Linked DNA regions of Homo sapiens. The protein of the gene in region 2 interacts with the protein of the main gene of each other region in a biochemical or structural test. Each region holds a gene or a part of one and is shown on either strand. Other genes may lie near its edges.

Region 1 (3,914 bases), on a different chromosome or scaffold from region 2:
GCAAAGGGATACTGGGATGATATAATTTACATTTGTTTTCAGCAAGGTATTCTTTCCAAAATAAGGCTCATGAATGTAATATTATCCCCCACTGCACTTTGATGAGGTGAAAATCATTTAGCCTAATTAATATCTACTGAACAAACTGGAAGGTGGTCTCTTATTAAAGCTTACCAGGAAGACTTTGAAACCCAACAGGAAACAAGACATCATGTATGGCTCAAGGATTGTGAAAGTGCATCAGAGCACTTTGTATCACCCCATATCAAGCCTCATCCTTAAGCCTGGAATGGTTAGTCCCAGGAGTTTCAGAATGCCAGTGAAACTTCCTGACTTTGCCTAAGAAACCACTATTTTTGGATTATATTTAAGTGTCACTCCTGAGAAGCTCACTTTTAAATTACATGGAAATCAAGAGAGAAAGATGTTTGTTTCACAAATATTTTAGAATTTCTTAAATACATCTATTCAGTAAGTCACACTAAAGCAATGGTTCTCAAACTCACTTAAGGGTATTTTTAAAAATCTAGATGCCCAAATCTCATCCCCAATCCTTGATTAGAGTTTTCCAGGGTAGGACCAGGTCTGCTGTTAAGAGCTAATTTGGGTGTTCTGCAGATGAAATAAACTATTCCTCGACAATTTCTGGCATGTCACTAAAGGGTATGAGTAATACAGCACCTGACTCAGTAGAGGCTGGAGGCTCAAATGGCTAGGCTACCAGTGAAGCAACTGTGCAACTCTGCCTCTCGAAATACACTAGGTATTTAATAAGCAAGCTGCTTTAAATATAAGGTGAAATTAGCCTACAAGTCTAAAATACTGTTGGAGTAAGCAACTATTCAATTTCACCTGTAACACTAAATTACAAATTCAAGGATTTTTTTCACTGTGGTTATTTTATTATGTCATTTTGAACAAATGACCTAGTAACATTATCCACTCAAATATGAATTAACACTACTAAAAACTCAAGATCTCTATCTTCAGATTAAGACCATAATTAGCAAAGAGCATATTTCGTAGGTACAGCAATAATAGGATTTTTGTAATAAATAATTTTACAAGTTGAAGCCTATCATAAAATCAAGTTACCCTAATATTATTTAAAACTTGAGCTTCTCCTTAAAGGTAATTTTCTTATACAGTTAATCACAATGAAAACAAAGCGAATACCTTATTTTCCTTTCAACACGCTTTTAACATATGCCATGGTATCCATCCTTCAATTGTTTGTGCCTTTTTTGAGAGCTGCCCATCTGAAGCAATAAAAGAGAGTTGAATAATTCAATAAACTGTTTCTTTAAAGGCCAGGAACGGGTGGTAGTCTCCCCACTCTGCTGCAAAGCCAAAGCAAATTCTCCAGTGGATTTTGTTAGACACATCTAGAAAATTAGATCCCCATACAATTAGGTCACGAAAACCTCCCGCAAGGCCCCTACCTTCCGCAACAAACTTAGGCCTTTCGTCCTACACTGTCACTGTTCCTGGGTTTACGCCTCCTCTCTCAAAGGCCTTCCTTCCTATCCCGTTCCCATTCGGATGTTACCAGGGTTAGGCGTCTCCGGCTTACTTCTAAACCTTGACTTTCTTGCCACCCCCGCCCTCCGTCCCGCTACTGGTTTCTTTCCCGGCCGTTGCGACGGAAGCTCGCGCCGGGGGACGATCCCCACTACGATAAATAAAGTGGGCTCAAGAGGCCCAACCAACCTCTTCCCAACCGAGCCTCAAGTAACGCTTCCCTTAGAGACCTAGATTCTCACAAGGAAGCAGGTGATAGACGGTGCATCCCAACCAATCACCAGCCAGCGGAGCGCAATAAGAAGGCAGTTAACCAATCGGAGAAGAGATGGGTGGCTCGAAGGATGGCCTGCTTTCCCCGGCGTCTCCAGGAAGTAGTGGTGGGACCCAGATCTTTCCCTCGAGCCCACCTCTCCAGGTCTTGGGCCTTCGCCCTCCTGTCCGGAGAACGTGTGCTGTGGGCGGCCGTTCTCTCGGGTGCTGGAGGCTGTGGTTGGGAGGCGGGATAGGCTTGCCGCCGCGCCTCCGGAGCCCGCTGTGCCCTCGAATTGGCCACTGAGGAGAGAAGCCGGAAGCCCGTGCTGCAGCGTGGGGTCGTCCAGCTGGAGGGGATACTCGGGAGGAAGAACGGCAGGCCCCAGCCCTTCTTTCCCGACAGCCACGCCGCCCACTTGGCGGCGGGGAGTCGCTCCGCAGCCGGCCCGGAGCTCGCCCGTGCAACTGAAAACTGCGTCCGTCGGGAGCTAGGGTGCCTGGCGTCCCGCGTTCCGCCCTCTTGCGCCGCCCTTACAGTGCCTCCTCCTCGAGGCCAAATGCCCGGCCGCTCAGCGCTCGTGGCAGCCGCGTAGTTGCAGAGACACGGTCTGCTTTCCAGGCTTGGGAAGTCCCAGCACTTAACTCTGCGCGTCGGTGTCGCTCGTTTGCCAGCCAGACTATAAAGTGCACCCAACGGTGTATGCGTCTCTTTACTTCCGGGTGTAACGTACTACCCAGCCAGGCCCTTTCCCTTGCTGTGCTTTGGAACCTGGAAATTACAAACCCTAATAAATTCTGAAGTCTGTCTGTCTGTCTATCTCTATTTGAGACAAGGTCTCATCCTGTCGCCCAGGCTAGAGCGATCGTAGCTCACTGCAGCCTCCAGCGATCCTCCCTCCTCATCCCAGTAGCTGGAACTACAGGCGCTTGCCATTAATTTCACATTTTTTCTTTTGTAGAGACGGGGGTCTCGCTATGTTGCCCAGGCTGGTTTCGTACTCGGCCTCAAGCAATCCTCTCACCTCAGCAAAATGGGATTACAGGCATGAGGCACCGCACCCCACTATATTTTGTGTTTTTTCACCTTCCCGCTAGGAAAGCAGTTTGAAACTCCCAACATTCCTCCCTCTGATTTTATTTCTGAGATGTGAGGCTTACTAAACTTACCTCACCGTTAGTTAAGATGCTGAGTAGGTCTCTGTCTAACCTGGTATAGTCCCCTTTCCTGACATCCCTACCATCTGATGACTTCATCACTGGAGAGTGCTCACAATGCCGTTACTTGTTATTCTTCCGTTTGTTCTTTCATTTCTGCATTAACTTTTGAGGAACTACCATATCCCCATTATTATGCTGGGCACCTGGATAACAAGCTACATGCAGTCCTTAGCATCAATGAGCTACCAGTGTAGTAAGGATCTATGGACAAGTGTTTAAAATAAGCATATGGATATGGATACTAAAATGGAAATATATAAAACAGCCTAGAAAGCCCTTCCAGATCTTTCTTCTGCTTACATTTACAGGCTGTTGTCTTGGCACTCCGAAACTGCTTGAAGTTCCGCCACAAGATATGGGAACTCCTAAGCAACCCCCAACTCCACTTTTACCTAATTTCCTCTGTCTCCCAAAACTCAGCTCAGTTCTCATCTTTAAGGAATTTTTCCTGATACCTCTGAAATAACACCCTTACCTCACCCTCCAGCCCGATATTTACACATAAAACTAAGCAAATGTCCCTTTTGGGGGCTCCCATACTCCCTCTATATATAAAACCCTATTTTAGCATGTATTCATGTATTTAACAAATAGTGAGTGTGACTATGTATTAGGTGCTGGTGATGACAGCCGTGAATCAGACAGTCATGTCCTCATAGAATGAAGTCCTTGCCCTCTTTTCCCATGGAAAAAGAGCCATTGAGCAAATACTTAAGATGATTTTCTGTTTTTAGGTCTTTACTACCTAGAGTCTGAACTGCTTAAGTGTGATCAAATGGTCTAATTCATTTTTGTAATCCCAGAACTTAGCACAGCACTTGGCAGAACATTCTCCTCAGCCTACTGCATAGATGAGCAGAGAAAAATGCAATCTTTTGGCAAACGGGATTAATGCACACAGTACAACGACTTCAGATATT
Region 2 (3,914 bases):
GTACTCTTTCTCGTTTTAGCATTGCTCTAGTGAGCTTACTGTGTGTAGACATGGAAGGGGCACGTGGGGGCAGGAGACACAGCATACAGGGAACCGTGGGTCACCCTTCAACTTACAGCAAAAACAATCAGGTTAAATCTACAAAAACCAGCCCCTCTCCTATTTCCCCTTCCTCCTGTACACACTCTATTACAAACACACTTTCTACAGCAGCTCTTTTAATGGTCAGCCCATTGCCCCAGCATCAAGTTAGCAGCATTGTTAGACACCGTGGATCCCTGAGCCAAGCACAGCCCTCCCCTCCCATCATGAACGCAGAGCAAACCTGGCCATCTGCCTGTCTCCTTGGCTTTTTCTCCATTGCCCTCTCACCATCTCCACCTCTTGAGGGACGTATATAATGGTGCTGCGCCCACGCCTGCTGTCCACCCGCCCCTCCTACGCCTTCTCTGTCGCCATGAACAGTGTGACAAAGCCAGCCTCCCTGCCTCTTGCTCTGCTGTAGGTCTCTTCCACATGGGTCACAGGAGAGTGTTTCTCTGCCCAATAACCTCGTTAGCTCCCCCCTGTGACATTCATAACACAAGCGGGGCAGCCGGCCCATGGCCCTGGGCCCACAAAGGCCCGGGTGGGAGCATCTGCCAGGGAAGAGGCAGGCAAGTATCCCCGGCCCTCCCTTCCCTCTGCCATAGGCCTCAGACCGGGAAGCACACCTCACACATGCCCATCTCTGCTGTCCCACTGCTAGCAAAACCAACTCTTATTATTGGCATACGAATGAACTTCTGGAAGCCAGCAGGCATAGGGGGAACAGGTGCACCGGTTGCACAGGGAGACTCTACCTCCCTTTTTGTTTTACTAAGAAGATTTTCAGGGGAGTCCTCTTGGGGACACTGTCCAATCCCACAGAATTGGGGAGCACTATGTGCATGAACTTGACTGCCTCTCAGCAGCTCAGAGTGGCACCAAAGGAGCAGTGTGTTCCCACAGCCAGAGGAGAGACGCCGCTGGAGACGAGGACGGCGGCCGTGCTGCCCTCTGTTGCCCGCTACACAGAAGACGAGCATCTTCCTCGGGATCCCTGAGCATGCCCCACCTCTCCTCCAGGTTAGTCAAATACTGAGGCAACATCAGCCCTCCAGCTAGGTCCAGACGTGGGACTGTGGGCAAGTCACTTCCTCTTTCCAAGGGCTTGGTTTCCCATTTGTCTAATAACGGGTTGGGTGAGATAAGTGTTTTTCTAACTTCTAGCTGCAACTCATTAATGGGTCATGAAATGCATTTGTGGGTCGTGACCAGCACTTTCTGTTGTTGTTCTCCTTTAACCAAATAGAGTAGGATAGAAAGTATCAGGCTCACCGTATGTCGTTAAGAGTAAATATTGTTCGGAGAAACTTTTGTATCAGTTTGATATACTTGTACAAGTATCCTGAGTTGTGTTATAAAATGTGTTTCTTCCTACATGGCTTAGGTCAAGAGTTTAAAGATAGTAAGCAGGATAACCTCCCAGGTGCCTTACAGGTCTACTTTGCTCTTACTTGAGGATCTGGAATGGGAATGACTCCCAAGGAGAAGAACAATGAGGAGACAATAGAATGGATCACGGTGTCTACCAGCCGGCAAATTCACAAAGCAGCCCTCTCCACAGAGCGGCGCTACTTCCCCGTGGCACCAGGGCTGCCCCAGGACCACTCTCAAGGACATCCCCCTCTCTACTGGTAGGGGATACTGAACAGAGAGAAAAACAAAAAAATCAAACATCATTTCATCTGTGCACTAGCTTCCTAGCTGTAATTAGCCAACCCCCACCCTCAACTGTGGAAAGCTCCACCTACCCAATGCAGCCATTCCTGGAAACCATCAGCTTTGTCGCTATGACAGGATGGAGAAATGGTCACAATATCCACTCAGAAGAAGGAAGCGGAAAACCAAATTGCATGCATGCATGCGACGATGAAGATTACAACCATGGGTAAATACATACATATATGCCTATGGATGAACTGGAAGGATGCACGGAAAATAAAAGCTGTTCTGTTAGGTGGGAGAAACACAGATGAGTTTGTAAAATTTGTACGTAATATTATTTTAACAAATAAAAACCAGGTACAAATTTCTCAGCAGTCTGTTAAGTCTCTTGATCAAAAATGCCAACAAGCAATATGCTGGTGCAGAAGGCACGCTCAGGGGTGAGGGTGTGCCCTCGCCATCGTTAATTGCCCACCTGGAGAGGTGAGATGCTGGTGACTTCCTGAGATCCTTCCTCCTGCAGCAGAGAGAGAGGCAATGAACCGATCAGCGATCCATTCTGATCGACTCATGACAATGTGCTCCTCCCTGTTCCAGGCAGCATGGAGGACTCCCCCCAAAACGTACAATATTCAGACTTCTTAAGGCTGGGCATCAATGCATTAGATAGTAGAGGATGGTGTGCTATAATGGCTAGGTCTGTACTACTATATGGATAACTTCTGAAGAAACTTCTCAAAGAAAGGGGGCTCTTGAAGGCTGGGCGCAGTGGCTCACAGTGTAATCCTAGCACTTTGGGAGGCCGAGGTGGGCAGATGACCTGAGGTCCGAAGTTCGAGACCAGTCTGGCCAACACGGTGAAACCCTGTCTGTACTAAAAATACAAAAATTAGCCAGGCATGGTGGCACGCGCCTGTAATCCCAGCTATTCTGGAGGCTTGGGCAAGAGAATCACTTGAACCCGGGAGTTGGAGGTTGCAGTGAGCAGAGATTGTGCCATGCACTCCAGCCTGGGTGACAGAGCAAGACTGTCTCAAAAAAAAAAAAGAAAAAGAAAAGAAAAAAAAAAAGAAAGGAGGCTCTTGAGTGAAGAGGAGCATTTGAGACACTTCTCAGAAGACTCTTCAGGGAGATGGGAAGGATTTGGAGAGTAGACTCAAAAAGCTCCAAGCTGGAACGTGGAGTGCACGGAGCTTGGGCAGCCTCCACTCCTGCCCCAGTCCCCACCAGACCCAGGAGGGCCTTTCTCCAGGTTGCTGCATCTGGAGATCTGAAGAGAGCAGGAGCAGCCACACGCCTTGCCATGGGCAACAGAGGCCGTCCCAGGGCCTAGGGCTCCAGCTCCCCTCCAACCAAAGCAGACCTCTGGAGAACACAGCTCACTGGTTCAGAGTATTAGCTCTGGAATCAGAAGGAGGTGGAATCTCCATCCCACCACCTACCAAGTGTGTGAAGATGAGCAAGTTACCTGACCTCTCTGAGTTTTCATTTTCTGATCTGCAAATAATGACAACAGCAATACCCACGTTGTAGTGCTGTTCTGAGGATTCACTTAAAATAATCCTTGTAAAAGCACAGTGCCTGGTTCAAGGTAAGCAATGAATGTCAGCCAGCATCCTCCCCAACCTGCCCCTCCTCTGCTCTCACTCCTAGTACTTCCTGCAGGACTGTGGTGGGGAGTTCCGACTGGAGATGCTCTCCAGCGTCTGGAGGGATGAGGAGAAAGGCGCCCAGCATCCCTGGATTGCAGGCAGATGCAGGGAGCAGGCCAAGCAGGCCAGGAAGAATGAGGGCTCTGTGCTTCCTGGAGAATCTGTCACTATCCAGTTGTGTATGTGTCCCAGAAATGACATCATCGAGTCCCCAAAGCCTCCTGCTGCTTTGCAGAACTGGGAGAAAGTGCAGCCCCACAGGGGAATGAAAAGAACCCCATGAACACTCAGCGAATGGAAGAGAGAAGTTGGCAACTCTAACCCAGCACATTCCACAATTCATTGAGATGCAGTTCACCCGAGCCAAGGAACGATGCCCAGATAACCAGGAACACCCGACATTCCCGCCTCCCTCCTGGCAAAATGGTGGAGGCAAAGGACACACCTTAGGGGAATCCCAGCTGGACCCACAGGCGCCAGGGGCAGCTCTGCTGTGGGCTGCATGCTTGCTTA

The links.
Region 1: the proteins of CCND2 (region 2) and RNF6 form a complex in vitro, tested with the Homo sapiens proteins (one study listed by BioGRID).

Annotation. Positions count from the first base shown.
Region 1 is NC_000013.11:26,220,072-26,223,985, forward strand, and holds the start of RNF6 (E3 ubiquitin-protein ligase RNF6), read right to left. Parts: upstream 2,244-3,914; 5' UTR 1,932-2,243; exon of another isoform or gene 1,443-1,931; intron 1,260-1,442; 5' UTR 1,177-1,259; intron 1-1,176. UniProt on the Homo sapiens protein: E3 ubiquitin-protein ligase mediating 'Lys-48'-linked polyubiquitination of LIMK1 and its subsequent targeting to the proteasome for degradation. Negatively regulates axonal outgrowth through regulation of the LIMK1 turnover.
Region 2 is NC_000012.12:4,283,627-4,287,540, reverse strand, and holds part of CCND2 (G1/S-specific cyclin-D2), read right to left. Parts: intron 1-3,914. UniProt on the Homo sapiens protein: Regulatory component of the cyclin D2-CDK4 (DC) complex that phosphorylates and inhibits members of the retinoblastoma (RB) protein family including RB1 and regulates the cell-cycle during G(1)/S transition.